Linked DNA regions of Homo sapiens. The protein of the gene in region 1 purifies or fractionates together with the protein of each later gene. This does not show direct contact. Each region holds a gene or a part of one and is shown on either strand. Other genes may lie near its edges.

Region 1 (3,971 bases):
GACACAGTCACCCTCCGCGCCTATCTCAGCCAGCTCCTTTCTCTAGTGCCCTGGAGCTGAAGCCACCTCCTCGAGACTCACAGGCCATCAACACACTGTGTGGGATAAATGGAGCAGGAAAAACAATGGGGACAAAACATGGCCAGAAGGAGAAAGAAGTGTGAGGGCAAAAGGACAAAGCAGGACCCTGGCTGAATTATGGCACGGAGCATTCTAGAAGTAGTCCAAGGTACTCTTTAGGATGGGCCTGTGAGCACCAGAACAGGTCCACTCTCTGGACAATGCCACACCCTCATCTTAGGACCCGTGCTGATCCTACTCACCCAGGCTCACACAGAAACCTCAACCTCCTGAAAGTGCTGCCTTGTAACCTGTATCACAGGAATCTGCCTGGCCTCTAAGTGGCTCTTAGAAGGCACAAAAAGCATGACAAAGGGTCTAGTGAATACCATAGTGCAGAATCTTTAAAACTAATGGGGAAGGAGGCCGGGTGTGGTGGCTCACACCTATAATCCCAGCACTGTGGGAGGCTGAGGCAGGAGGATCACCTGAGGTCAGGAGTTTGAGATCAGCCTGGCCAACATGGTGAAACCCCATCTCTACTAAAAATACAAAAATTAGCCAGACATGGTAGCAGGCACCTGTAATCACAGCTACTCAGGGGGCTGAGGCAGGAGAATCGCTTGAACCCGGTAGGTGGGGGTTGTAGTGAGCCAAGATCGCACCACCGCACTCCAGCCTGGGTGACAGAGCAAGATTCCATCTCAAAAATAAATAAATAAATAAAATAATGGGGAAGGAATGCCCAGTGCCCACCCAGAGCCTGGGATGTGGGTTCTTATAAAGCCAGGGGCTGACCATGTGGCTACAGCCCACTGGAGGCAATTCCAGAGAAGGCAGGGAACTGTTCTCAGCTGAGTCCCTCCCTGGATTATCTCCCTCCCACTCTCTCAACTCACTGAACTGCCTGGACTGAGTTCAAGCTGACCAGGTCGTGTATTCCCTCAGAGGAACTCACGTGGCAACTCAGGAAACTGGTCGTTTTTATTTGGTTAATCTTGAGGCAGAGAAAGGGCTGGTTCCTCGTGATTTACCTGGGGCCATGGCAACAAGGAACGTGTGGGCCCCTGGAACTCACAGCAGTGCCATTGTTTCAGCAGGCATACAGAGGTGCCCTCCCGGGTGGGCGGAGGGGCCAGGTGGCTGACGTGGAAAACATCCTGGCCCCGACCCTCTGCTCAGGCACGTCGGCATACCAGCCACCAGGTGGCAGCACAAACTTAGTACAGCCCTTGGCTCTAAGAAAAGGGCTTTATTTTTCCTCACGATATCAAGCCCAAATGAGGGGGTGTAGCTGTTGACTGCAATCCTGCTGGTTGCCTCCCACACGGGATTTCGCAGTTAGCCTGGAATCTGGGAGGTTGAATGCCATATGGCTTCAGCTCCCACCCAGTGCTGGAGGCTGCTGGCCTGGGCCAGGGATGGAGCAGTGGGCACAGCCAGAGTGGGTCCCCCAAGCTAGTCTCCAACACAGATTCAGGCAGAGACAGGGGTGTGGGCATCTGTGTGACATGTTGGCCTGGGAGGAAGGCGTGTCAAGGGGAGCTGGTATGTGGCTGGGTAAGAGGGGCGGCCACGGGCTCTGCAGGGCAGGGTCTAGGACAGGGTCAGGACTAGGCACCTGCTGGCGCTTCCCCAAAGCCCTCTCAGATGGGTCATGCTGCAGGTGGGGATGGTGGAAGCCCACCTTAGCTGAGAAGTCTCGGTATCTAAACCCTCCTGGTCACTCTGTAAATGTGTGGGAAACAAATAGCTGAAGTTGCCTGTGCACCATTTTATAGAAGAGCCCAGCTCTGCGGCTACCCCAGCTTCCAGCCCCTCTCTTCCCTCAGGGAGTGTGGGGACCTCGAAGCCGCCAATTGCTCACCTGGGGCTGATCCGCTTGGCCACCACAATGATGTCGCTGACACTGGCTGAAGTCTTCATCTTGGCCCCAGAGCCCATTGTCATGGCAACAAGCTTCTCTGTCAGAGTGTGACAAATCTAATGCGGCAGGGAGGAGAGAGATGAGGGCTGACCTGGCTCCACTCAGGGCCTCGCCACCCCCACGAGACAAATCAGCCCTGCCGTGAGTTCCATCGCAGCTGGCCCCCAACCTAATGGCCAGATGTGAAAAGTACAGAGATGAGAGGAAACGGGTGGGAAGTGGCAAAAGCCAAGGGCATGGCTGGGAGAGGACCTGGGGTGGGAGCCGCAGATCAAGGGCAGGGTGTGGGCTCTGGGAAGCCTAAGCTGAAATAATCTGTCTTAAGAAAAATCATGTGCTCCAATTTCACCTTCTCACTTAGGGGAAAAACCTACTTTCTTTTTCTATTCCTTCATCTCATGGTTTAGTCTTCCACAAGAATAAATATCTCCAACAAGGCACCCTCAGGAATGGGGCTGAACAAAGGGCAATTGTTCCCTTTAAGCACATGCTCCAATAACAGCACTTATTTCAACAATTGTCTCAGGTAATATATTAGCATGTTTATCAAGCTGATGATGAAAGGACCTTAGGAAAAGCAGGGAAAAGGCAAGACTGACTACAGCCTTCTTCGTGGTCCCACCCACAGAGCTGGCCACCCCAGAGCTTGCTTCCCCTTTCCAGGCCACCCCATGCTAGAACCAACCAACATGGGTGCGCCTCTATCCATGGCAAGGAAGCACCCCTACCTGACCTATACTTGGAGCTGGACAGTAGAGGGCAGAAAGAAGCCCAAAGGTCCACCTGGGAGTTAGCCCAGACCCCTCTCCCAGCTCCCACCACAGAGACTCAAGGGCAGGTGACCTAGCAAAAGAGTCTTAAGATCCCAAGAGGAGACTTAGAAGCCCTCTCCTTTGATCAGAGGTTCGCCGGGTAGACACAGATTCCAATTCAATATGACTCCCTCCAGCTGATTCATCTCACACCACAGGTGCCATTTATCCTCCTAATAGATGAGGACAGGAGACAAAACCCAGGCCCAGGACACATCTTGGCCAGGAGAAGGGAAATGTAGTATAGTATTATCTTCTAGCCATTATGCCTACCTAGCTCTATCAATAACCATATTTATATCTATAGCCATATTTGTATATCCAAAGAGCCTCTCAGAATTAACTAAGCCTGGACTCTGAGATAATAACTTCCTACTAGGCATTTATCCATCCCCTGAGAGAGACAGCCAAAGAAGAGGTGGGGTAAAGAATGTTTTATTAATAGTGTCTTCTACTGAATGACACTAAAGAAAAGACAAAGTTGTCTCTTTTGAAATCTTGAATAATTACTAGTCAAAGAGATAAATGTGTGATTACCCAGGTTACTGATGTAAAAAAAAAAACCCTGATATTTGCAACTGGCCAAATATTTCAGTATAGTTATTATTCTATTAGGTAGGATATTAACAGGCAAGAATTGAAAACAAATGCTAAAACCATAAAATTACCCAAAATGCAAATTGGATGCAATTTTTCAAAGATTCCAGGCTTTCAAAGAAAAAATCCTCTGCCTTCAGATTGAAGTATGCCTGCTTTGGTTTTTTAACACTGATTGTCCCATTTGGCTGACTACGGTCACAGCCAAAGAAGGCTAGTGATGACTTTCTAGTCACAGTAGAAATCCAAATACAGAAAGAAACTCACCATACAGGCCTGAACTCTCTGTTAGTGAAAATGAGTGTGCAGGGGGAAGCAGGGAAACCCCATTTCTCTTGGCAGCTACACGGTCTCAGGAATACACAGCTTTCTCCAAGAGGAGTGAAATGGTGGCTGTGTACCTAGGCTGTCTTTCCCACAGGTCATTGAATTAAGACGACCAGATGAAATAAAGCCTTTGAAACAGCCTTGAGATTCTGTGAACAGCCAGTCCAGGCAGGGGGGGAAGTAAACCACAAAAATTCCAAGTGTCAAGTTAAGGAAAGGCCTCTTGCGAGAGGTCAGTGCCCTTTCTA
Region 2 (3,971 bases), on another chromosome or scaffold:
CTGAAGTCCCAGCTACTCGGGAGGCTGAGGCAGGAGAATGGCGTGAACCTGGAAGACGCAGCTTGCGGTGAGCCGAGGTCGCACCACTGCACTCCAGCCTGGGCGACAGAGCGAGACTCCGTCTCAAAAAAAGATAGCTATTCATTAGACATTGAAAGAATTATAAAATAGACATACAAAATTACAGAAAGGTTAGAAGAGTAATCTCTATCTCTAGAAGCTACTGAGCCATTACATTTCTTTGTACATTTTTTATGTGAGCTAAAATCAAAATTTGCTTCTGAGGACCATTATACGATAAAAATAAAGTGTGGGATAAATCAGCTCAACTGAAGCCACATCCAAAGCTGTTACTCAGAAAACTTAGTATCACTGAGAGTATATTGGAGAGCTCAAAGTCTTACTCAGGCAGCTGATCAAAGAATAATGGTCTTAGTCACTGTAAGTACTTTTGGATACCTGGCATAAAGGATGTAATGAATACATGATTGAATAAGGATATATCTTAAGAATGCATTTTCATAAAAACATAAAATCAGTTGAGATTATGTAAATTTTGAAGAATGAAGAAAGTAAGTTATCATAGCTTCTTCTCAAGTTTTATTTTTATGTCTTACAAATATGGCTGGGCAATACAACACAAGGCTTCCTTTTCAGGAATTTGGAGAACTTATGCTTGGTATTTTAAACTCATGAGAACTTAGTCTAGAAAGGGCCTCCACTTATTTGACCACAGGTAGAAGATTGGCTCTGCTTTCTTCCTGTAATAATATTGGTTTCTATAGGTCAAATGATACACAGTATAATTTTGTGGCATTTTGATTACAAGTTTTCCATTTAAAAATGGACAAAAATCAACTTCTTACTTGAAATTTTGGAGGTAGTATGTTACCAAAAAAAATGGTAGTTCTTGTAAAGGTATACCTGTGTCTAGACATAAGTTGCAGGTTTAAAAATCAATAGATTTGAATAAAGTTAAAGTCTAGAAAAATATGCAATGTATACATGCGGATGATTAGTAAACCCTAATATCCAAATGCAATGTCAATAGTGTTACTAAAAATGAACTATCGGCCATTATTGCAAAACTGCCAACTGAGAATATTGATATAGATACTAACTGTATTTATTTGTTTTTTCAGCAATTTATTTTAAAACAATCTTGGATATATTTAGTTACATCTGGAATAAACTCAGGTATTACACAGGGCCTTGAAACATTTATAAAAGGGTATATTAAACCCTGCCTTTAAGAAAACTATCATCTGGTCGAGGAGGGACATTTGTCAGTTGAAGTTCTTCAACGAGCCTGGAGGGAATGTCGCAGTGTGTTCTGTTTGGAAAGTAAGTTGTACCCTGACTGCCACTATGGAAGCTGAAGGGGGAGATACAAGCTGCTGCCTTCCAGATATATTTAAGAGACACTGATTTTGGAATAAGTCAGTGAATAAAAATAGGGGCTCAGGACTCATCCGAACGTGGGGTACTGATGCTGCTCAGATTCACTGCCCTGTGTTCTAGGGAGGGTATCGAAGCCCAAATTGTTGCTTTCTGCAGGAAACGAGTGTTTCCTGCCTCGTTTCCCACTGGAGTTGCCACATGTTGTGTTTTGCAAGCCTACTCCATCGGGTGTCCTGGGAATTCTATGAGCCACCCCTATGTTCAAATACTTAACTTTTTTTTTTTTTTTTTTTTTTTTTTTTTGAGACGGAGTCTCGCTCTGTTGCCCAGGGTGGAGTGCAGTGGTGCGATCTTGGCTCACTGCAACCTCTGCCTCCCGGGTTCAAGCGATTCTTCTGCCTCAGCCTCCCAAGTAGCTGGGACTACAGGTGCGTGCCACCAGGCCTGGCTAATTTTTCTATTTTTACTAAGACAGGGTTTCACCATATTGGCCAAGTTGGTCTCAAACTCCTGACCTCGTATTTTTTTTTTTCTTCAACAGTCAGTATCTGTTTTCGTGCTTACAACCAATACCCCCAACTTTTACAGACACAAAAGCAAACATAATAGACTTATTATTCCTTGTTATGGGCACTCGTTAAACATTTACAACACGGAAACACATGTCCTTTTGTTCTGGAAAATGTTTTAGAGTGGATTCTAGGTTTCATGTATTCCTCCCCCTTTTTCTGGATGAAGGGAGACACCAGGATGGCAGTTGTGTGCCTCTCCTTCTAGCCCCAAGTCAAGCTTCTAATGGAGTCTTTCTAAGGAAGTTGACGTTGGTAGAATTCCTGCTGCATCACAGGGGAGTTTCAGGTCAATTTATGGTAAATACAGAAAAAGTCAGTCCCCAGAATGACAATTATTAGCTCTAGGTGGAAAAAAAGTTATGTAGGAGGGAAAGCAAAATCATTTTTACCATGTAGTTTAACTAAGAGTACTGGCAAGGTCATAAGAAATAAATGCCAAATATTGATATAATCATATTTTAATACAAATATTTCTGAAAGAGACATGAGAAGAGTATTTTATGTGGTGAGTTTGGGGAGAGAAAGACATCTAAATGAATAATGAATGTCTAAAATTGAAAAAAAAAGTATTAGTGTCATAAGCATGCTATTCAGAAAAGTGAACATAAATAAAATAATGAGTTAGAAGTAGTAAAATTTGTTGTCTCAAGGTAACAAAAATGAGGAAGGGCAAGGGACTACTATGTTTCGGGAAAAACAAAAACAAACAAACAAAAAACCTGTAAAGCCCTTTGACCCTTTGCACTACATGCACTTATAAAATACAAAGAACAAGGCCAGGAGTGGTCGCTCATGCCTGTAATCCCAGCAATTTAGGAGGCTGAGGCAGGTGGATCACCTGAGGTCCAGAGTTCAAGACAAGTCTGACCAACGTGGAGAAACCCCGTCTCCACTAAAAATACAAAATTAGCCAGGCATGTTGGCATATGCCTGTAATCCCAGCTATTCAGGAGGCTGAGGCAGGAGAATCACTTGAATCCGGGAGGCAGAGGTTGTGGTGAGCCGAGATTGTGCCATTGCACTCCAGCCCGGGCAACAAAAGTGAAACTCCGTCTCAAAAAAATAATAATAAAATAAAATACAAAGAACATTGCATTGAGATAAAAATTACAATGTATCATTGATTTGAATTTTTTCTGCATGTAATTCATCAGTTAATTTTATTCTGTAGAAATTTTTCCCTGCTATTTCTCCATGGCAAATGAAAGTAGTGATCGTGAAACATTGTGTTTTATTCATTCAAAACAACAGAATACAAGACAAAGGAAAATATTTCTATACCCTACAAGAACCAAAAATCCAAAAGTACACACTAACACTAGAAAAAGTGTTCTGAACAGGTTGACCATATAACTTATTCTAACAAGGATAATACGAAATAAACCAGAATTATCCCAGACATTTATTACTCATACTTCCAAATGGACCTTTTCTTACATCTTACAAGATAGTTAGTGCTCTGAATCTGGAAAAATATGTGTAAACCGACCTTGAGGATTTATAAAATTTCCTTAGAAAGCATTGCAGTTAATTCTAGAAGCTATTTTTCTACCTATTGAATCACTAGAAATAGAGAAGCTTTTAAAAAAATTAACTTGTTTTTAGTTTTCAGATACATGTTTTAAGAGCCCAGAGTCTTGGCTGGAAGAACTCTAATGAACAGATCAGTGAAAAAATATACTTATACAGAAGTCTGAAGGTGGAGATCAGTACTTTCTAGATGTTACATTTTAATAGTAGCTAAACTAATGATGACATGTTTATATTGTCTTATATTTTTTAAAGATATTTTCTTATCACTGTTGTGAAAAAGAAACTTTGTACTCACAATTTAGCGTCTCCACTTACACTTTATAAGCATCTTTATAATATCGTCAATCTTGCTGAAATTTCATATAAGCAGTACAAAATACAGTACATCATTATAAATCAAGGAGAAGCATTTTGGTCACAGTGATCTCTAATTACAATGTGGACTCTCTCAATTTAGAAAACTAC
Region 3 (3,025 bases), about 11 Mb from region 1:
CTTTCCACCAGCTCTAGAGCATCTGGGACCTTCCTGCAATAGATGTTCAGGGGCAAAAGCCTCTGGAGACAGGCTTGGCAAAAGCAGGGCTGGGGTGGAGAGAGACGGGCCGGTCCAGGGCAGGGGTGGCCAGGCGGGCGGCCACCCTCACGCGCGCCTCTCTCCACAGACGTGTCCGAGTACAGCTGCCGCGAGCTGCACTTCACCCGCTACGTGACCGATGGGCCGTGCCGCAGCGCCAAGCCGGTCACCGAGCTGGTGTGCTCCGGCCAGTGCGGCCCGGCGCGCCTGCTGCCCAACGCCATCGGCCGCGGCAAGTGGTGGCGACCTAGTGGGCCCGACTTCCGCTGCATCCCCGACCGCTACCGCGCGCAGCGCGTGCAGCTGCTGTGTCCCGGTGGTGAGGCGCCGCGCGCGCGCAAGGTGCGCCTGGTGGCCTCGTGCAAGTGCAAGCGCCTCACCCGCTTCCACAACCAGTCGGAGCTCAAGGACTTCGGGACCGAGGCCGCTCGGCCGCAGAAGGGCCGGAAGCCGCGGCCCCGCGCCCGGAGCGCCAAAGCCAACCAGGCCGAGCTGGAGAACGCCTACTAGAGCCCGCCCGCGCCCCTCCCCACCGGCGGGCGCCCCGGCCCTGAACCCGCGCCCCACATTTCTGTCCTCTGCGCGTGGTTTGATTGTTTATATTTCATTGTAAATGCCTGCAACCCAGGGCAGGGGGCTGAGACCTTCCAGGCCCTGAGGAATCCCGGGCGCCGGCAAGGCCCCCCTCAGCCCGCCAGCTGAGGGGTCCCACGGGGCAGGGGAGGGAATTGAGAGTCACAGACACTGAGCCACGCAGCCCCGCCTCTGGGGCCGCCTACCTTTGCTGGTCCCACTTCAGAGGAGGCAGAAATGGAAGCATTTTCACCGCCCTGGGGTTTTAAGGGAGCGGTGTGGGAGTGGGAAAGTCCAGGGACTGGTTAAGAAAGTTGGATAAGATTCCCCCTTGCACCTCGCTGCCCATCAGAAAGCCTGAGGCGTGCCCAGAGCACAAGACTGGGGGCAACTGTAGATGTGGTTTCTAGTCCTGGCTCTGCCACTAACTTGCTGTGTAACCTTGAACTACACAATTCTCCTTCGGGACCTCAATTTCCACTTTGTAAAATGAGGGTGGAGGTGGGAATAGGATCTCGAGGAGACTATTGGCATATGATTCCAAGGACTCCAGTGCCTTTTGAATGGGCAGAGGTGAGAGAGAGAGAGAGAAAGAGAGAGAATGAATGCAGTTGCATTGATTCAGTGCCAAGGTCACTTCCAGAATTCAGAGTTGTGATGCTCTCTTCTGACAGCCAAAGATGAAAAACAAACAGAAAAAAAAAAGTAAAGAGTCTATTTATGGCTGACATATTTACGGCTGACAAACTCCTGGAAGAAGCTATGCTGCTTCCCAGCCTGGCTTCCCCGGATGTTTGGCTACCTCCACCCCTCCATCTCAAAGAAATAACATCATCCATTGGGGTAGAAAAGGAGAGGGTCCGAGGGTGGTGGGAGGGATAGAAATCACATCCGCCCCAACTTCCCAAAGAGCAGCATCCCTCCCCCGACCCATAGCCATGTTTTAAAGTCACCTTCCGAAGAGAAGTGAAAGGTTCAAGGACACTGGCCTTGCAGGCCCGAGGGAGCAGCCATCACAAACTCACAGACCAGCACATCCCTTTTGAGACACCGCCTTCTGCCCACCACTCACGGACACATTTCTGCCTAGAAAACAGCTTCTTACTGCTCTTACATGTGATGGCATATCTTACACTAAAAGAATATTATTGGGGGAAAAACTACAAGTGCTGTACATATGCTGAGAAACTGCAGAGCATAATACTGCCACCCAAAAATCTTTTTGAAAATCATTTCCAGACAACCTCTTACTTTCTGTGTAGTTTTTAATTGTTAAAAAAAAAAAGTTTTAAACAGAAGCACATGACATATGAAAGCCTGCAGGACTGGTCGTTTTTTTGGCAATTCTTCCACGTGGGACTTGTCCACAAGAATGAAAGTAGTGGTTTTTAAAGAGTTAAGTTACATATTTATTTTCTCACTTAAGTTATTTATGCAAAAGTTTTTCTTGTAGAGAATGACAATGTTAATATTGCTTTATGAATTAACAGTCTGTTCTTCCAGAGTCCAGAGACATTGTTAATAAAGACAATGAATCATGACCGAAAGGATGTGGTCTCATTTTGTCAACCACACATGACGTCATTTCTGTCAAAGTTGACACCCTTCTCTTGGTCACTAGAGCTCCAACCTTGGACACACCTTTGACTGCTCTCTGGTGGCCCTTGTGGCAATTATGTCTTCCTTTGAAAAGTCATGTTTATCCCTTCCTTTCCAAACCCAGACCGCATTTCTTCACCCAGGGCATGGTAATAACCTCAGCCTTGTATCCTTTTAGCAGCCTCCCCTCCATGCTGGCTTCCAAAATGCTGTTCTCATTGTATCACTCCCCTGCTCAAAAGCCTTCCATAGCTCCCCCTTGCCCAGGATCAAGTGCAGTTTCCCTATCTGACATGGGAGGCCTTCTCTGCTTGACTCCCACCTCCCACTCCACCAAGCTTCCTACTGACTCCAAATGGTCATGCAGATCCCTGCTTCCTTAGTTTGCCATCCACACTTAGCACCCCCAATAACTAATCCTCTTTCTTTAGGATTCACATTACTTGTCATCTCTTCCCCTAACCTTCCAGAGATGTTCCAATCTCCCATGATCCCTCTCTCCTCTGAGGTTCCAGCCCCTTTTGTCTACACCACTACTTTGGTTCCTAATTCTGTTTTCCATTTGACAGTCATTCATGGAGGACCAGCCTGGCCAAGTCCTGCTTAGTACTGGCATAGACAACACAAAGCCAAGTACAATTCAGGACCAGCTCACAGGAAACTTCATCTTCTTCGAAGTGTGGATTTGATGCCTCCTGGGTAGAAATGTAGGATCTTCAAAAGTGGGCCAGCCTCCTGCACTTCTCTCAAAGTCTCGCCTCCCCAAGGTGTC
Region 4 (3,971 bases), on another chromosome or scaffold:
GTTCACCATGTTCCTTCTATTTTTTAAGATAAAGAAACGAAGATTCGGATTGGGTTAGTGTGGCATCCGTGATTGAATAGGTACTCAGTAGTAAAACCAGTATCAGACATTATTTATAAAAAATTAGAAGCTGAAACTTAATCATTCCGCTGCTTCTTTATGGCTTTTTATACTTCCCAAATTACCCACAATAGATGTATTGCCTTTAAAATTTTTAAAAAGCTGCAAAAACTGCTCACTTTACCGAATACTTCTGGCCGGGCGCAGTGGCTCATGCCTGTAATCCCAGCACTTTGGGAGGCCGAGGTGGGCGGATCACGAGGTCAGGAGTTCGAGATCAGCCTGACCAACACAGCGAAACCCCGTCTCTACTAAAAATACAAAAATTAGCCAGGCGTGGTGGCTCACGCTTGTGACCCCAACTACTTGGGAGGCTGAGGCATGAGAATCGCTTAACCCGGGAGGTAGAGGTTGCAGTGAGCCAAGATCACGCCACTGCACTCCAGCCTGGGCGACAGAGTGAGACTCCGTCTCAAATAAATAAATAAATACTACTGAATACTTCCAAAAACAGTCTCCTTGTCCTTTCTTGCCTAAGGTCTCACTCTGCGGGCTACCTTTCTCAGGAAAGCCTTCCAAAGTACCCGCATCCTGAACAGCCCAGCTTCCCTTATCAGTCTTGTAACATTCCCTGGACTTCCTTTTTGTAGATCTTAACATAACTACAACTAGATAATTATTTAATGTCTATCTTCTCTACCCAGGCCTTAAGTTGAAATTTCTCAAGACTGGCCAGGCGCAGTGGCTCACACCTGTAATCCCAGAACTTTGGGAGGCCAAGGCGGAAGGATCACCTGAGGTCAGGAGTTGAGACCAGCCTGGCCCACGAGGCAAAACCCTGTCTCTACTAAAAATACAAAAAGGAGCCAGGCGTATTGGCGGGCGCCTGTTAAACCCAGCTACTCGGGAAGCTGAGCCAGGATAATCACTTGAACCCAGGAGGCGGAGGTTGCAGTGAGCCCAGATCGCACCACTGCACTCCAGCCTGGGAAACATAGCAAGACTCCGTCTCAAAAAGAAAGAAAAAAAATTCTCAATGCTGTTTTAGGCTCTTTGCTAGACCATACAAGGAGTTCTCGATACGAGGTCTATAACCTATAACCTGTAATTCTATAACCTATAACCTATGTCTTCCTCTGCCAGATATATGCACCTGCCTGAAATGAGACCACAAAAGTGAAGAACAGAAAAGACAACCTCAATTAATTATATCATTTGAGCACTTAGGTCCAGCCATGTCTATTTCTAGACCTTTCAATATCATGGGGGTTAGTGGGGAGAAGCTTTTCCCTCCTTTAAGCTAACTTGAGTTAGGGCTGTCACTTGTAAGCAAGAGTCACTTGAGAGAGCCACCCAATTCCCACTGTTGGAATATAAAATCTATACAGCAATGACTCCCAAATGCCTACCTCCAGCACAAACCTCTGTCAAACCCCAGACCCATATAGACAACTGCCAAGTGGAAATCCCTACTTGGCTGTTTCAGATATCTCAAACTCCATGTGATCCAATACTATTTTCTTCTACAAACCAGCTCTCCCACCTCATTTTTCATATCTGTCACCCACATCTACCCTGCTTTCCAAGCTAGAAATCCAGGAGTTGTTCTTGCCAATCCCATTCCTTCTCTCATCCACGCTAGTTATCGCCTCCTATCCATTCCAGGCCCTAATTATCTGCCACCATCTTAACCCATTTATGCCTGAGGCTGCAATTTTTTGAATTTTTGCAATCAGACCTTGGTGATGACCTTGAGCAGGATATAAATAACTCCCACGTGCTTAGCGTTCCAATAGTGGAACACTAGGCATAAATGGGTTTAATCCGGGCTAGGCCAGAAAGACCTTCCTACAAGTTTGAACATCTTCAGTCTTCCTTTCTTCAAAATGATTTTCCAACATGTAACTAATCTCCCTAACTGCAAATGTGATTATAATATTTTATCCCTATCTCTAGCATACTCCTGTCCTCCTTCATAAGTCAACAGCCAATTATATACAGCTGGATCAAGAGCCAAGCTCCACTGTTCCAGACTTTAACAGTATAACAAATCTGTGCCATAAGAAAGGAAGGCTCATCAGAAATATAAAACTATAAAAGAGTAACAAAGTCTACAACATCAGAGTAAATAAAAGATACTCAAAGATAATTTACTCATCTATTCAATGTCTACTCATTAGTTATATATTAAACTGCCCATACGAACTGGCTTAGGGACCACAGGGGCCACCCTGAGATGGAGTCTACTGATCATCTGATCTCCCTATGCCCCTAACTAGTGTTCTTTTCAAAAAACACTACTGGGGATTTCCAGGCACATCCAAGAGCTTTGATTAGGGAGAGAAACACTATTCATCAATTCTAAGATGCATCCATTTTTCATATTTTAGCATCTCCGGAATTGGGGTGCACCTTACAATCAATGGCTTCTTACAACTAGAAGCATATTTTAAGTGGTCTGTAACACTACTGTGTATCTTACAATGGACATAACTCAATGCAAGTCAACATTTAATCTTGTGTTAAAAAGTTGGTCCAACTTGGTCAATATGGACCTTGTGATGTTAAAAAGACATCCTAAAGCCTAAAAACTAGTAAAAGGTGGGAAAGTAGAAAAGGAAAAGAAATGGTTCCTACTTCAAAATTTAGTGTGATAGGAAACCCATTTTCCTTTCTCTCCATGGTTCGCTGCTCCTAAGATCCAATAGTCAGATCAGGACAGTTCAACAGCTACTGTTAGGCTAGACAGGAGCCTTTCCCCATTTATTCCTTTTAATATGCAAGAAAAGTCCGTTACAGACCCACCCTGCAAACTAGTAGTGAAACTAATATTTGTATAAAAACTGCTATAAAGGCCAGCCACAGTGCCTCACCTGTGTAACCCCAGCACAGGGAGGCTGAGGCGAGCGGATCAACTGAGGTCAGGAGTTTAAGACCAGCCTGGCCAACATGGCAAAACCCCACCTCTACTAAAAATACAAAAATTAGCCAGGCGTGGTCCCAGCTACCTGGGAGGCTGAGGCAGGAGAATCCCTTGAACCCAGGAGGCAGAGGTTGCAATGAGCTGAGCTCACGCCATTGCACTCCAGCCCAGGCGACAGTGCGAGACTCTGTATCAAAAAAAAAAAAAAAAAAAAAAAGAAAGAAAGAAAGAAAGAAAGAAAAAACAATAAGGTATTAAAAAAAAAAAAAAAAAAAAACAGGTAAATCTGAGGCAAATACCACAGAAAATATTTCATTTAATGGAAGACCTAGGAAACTTCTGAGTGGCGAAGTGGTAAGAACTGGGCTTACAGATTAATTTAGGCAGAAATACATAAGATTAGATAAAGGAGAAAAGTGAAGGCAAGAAAATCATAACATTAGTCCAGGTGGGATGAGAACTTGATTTAGAGTTAGGGGGTGGGGGTGGAGTCGCGGGGTGGTGGGGGGAGAACTACGTGAAAGCCAAATAACACTAGATTTGAAAATAAATTCCTGAAAAAAATGTGAAACATTAAAATTCATATGAGAATCAGAAAATCGACACAAACCAACAGCTATTAAAGAAATTGAAGTGTTACTCAAAGTCCTCTCCAGAAAAAAGATCTAGGCCTAAATGGTCACATAGGGGAGGTCTTCCAAACTTTCAAGGAACAGATAATCCCAGTCTAAAATGATCCTGAAAAAGAGAAAAAGAAGGAAAGCTGCCCAACTCGTTTTATGATTTGACTACTACCTTCACACCAATATGAATTCAGAATTGCCCCACAGTTAGCAAGAATAGAGAGCAGAAGAGTTACAATATCATAAAGCAGAATCAACAGATGTTGGCTACAGACAAGATATGATGAAATGGGAAAAGGTTTGGGTTTGGTATGACATCAACAAAAATAAAGAACACCAAAGAGGCAAGTTTGCTAAGGAAAAGC

What was found. The genes of interacting proteins can lie anywhere in the genome.
Region 2: the proteins of TMEM98 (region 1) and CD226 purify together in Homo sapiens (co-immunoprecipitation; one large-scale study listed by IntAct). This does not show direct contact.
Region 3: the proteins of TMEM98 (region 1) and SOST purify together in Homo sapiens (co-immunoprecipitation; one large-scale study listed by IntAct). This does not show direct contact.
Region 4: the proteins of TMEM98 (region 1) and BMPR1A purify together in Homo sapiens (affinity purification with mass spectrometry; one large-scale study listed by BioGRID and IntAct). This does not show direct contact.

What each region holds. Positions count from the first base shown.
Region 1 is NC_000017.11:32,934,404-32,938,374, reverse strand, and holds part of TMEM98 (transmembrane protein 98), read right to left. Parts: intron 2,044-3,971; coding exon 1,928-2,043; intron 1-1,927. UniProt on the Homo sapiens protein: Functions as a negative regulator of MYRF in oligodendrocyte differentiation and myelination. Interacts with the C-terminal of MYRF inhibiting MYRF self-cleavage and N-fragment nuclear translocation.
Region 2 is NC_000018.10:69,857,044-69,861,014, forward strand, and holds part of CD226 (CD226 antigen isoform a precursor), read right to left. Parts: 3' UTR 1-3,971.
Region 3 is NC_000017.11:43,752,908-43,755,932, reverse strand, and holds the end of SOST (sclerostin precursor), read left to right. Parts: intron 1-169; coding exon 170-591; 3' UTR 592-2,195; downstream 2,196-3,025. UniProt on the Homo sapiens protein: Negative regulator of bone growth that acts through inhibition of Wnt signaling and bone formation.
Region 4 is NC_000010.11:86,759,478-86,763,448, reverse strand, and holds part of BMPR1A (bone morphogenetic protein receptor type-1A isoform 3 precursor), read right to left. Parts: intron 1-3,971. UniProt on the Homo sapiens protein: On ligand binding, forms a receptor complex consisting of two type II and two type I transmembrane serine/threonine kinases.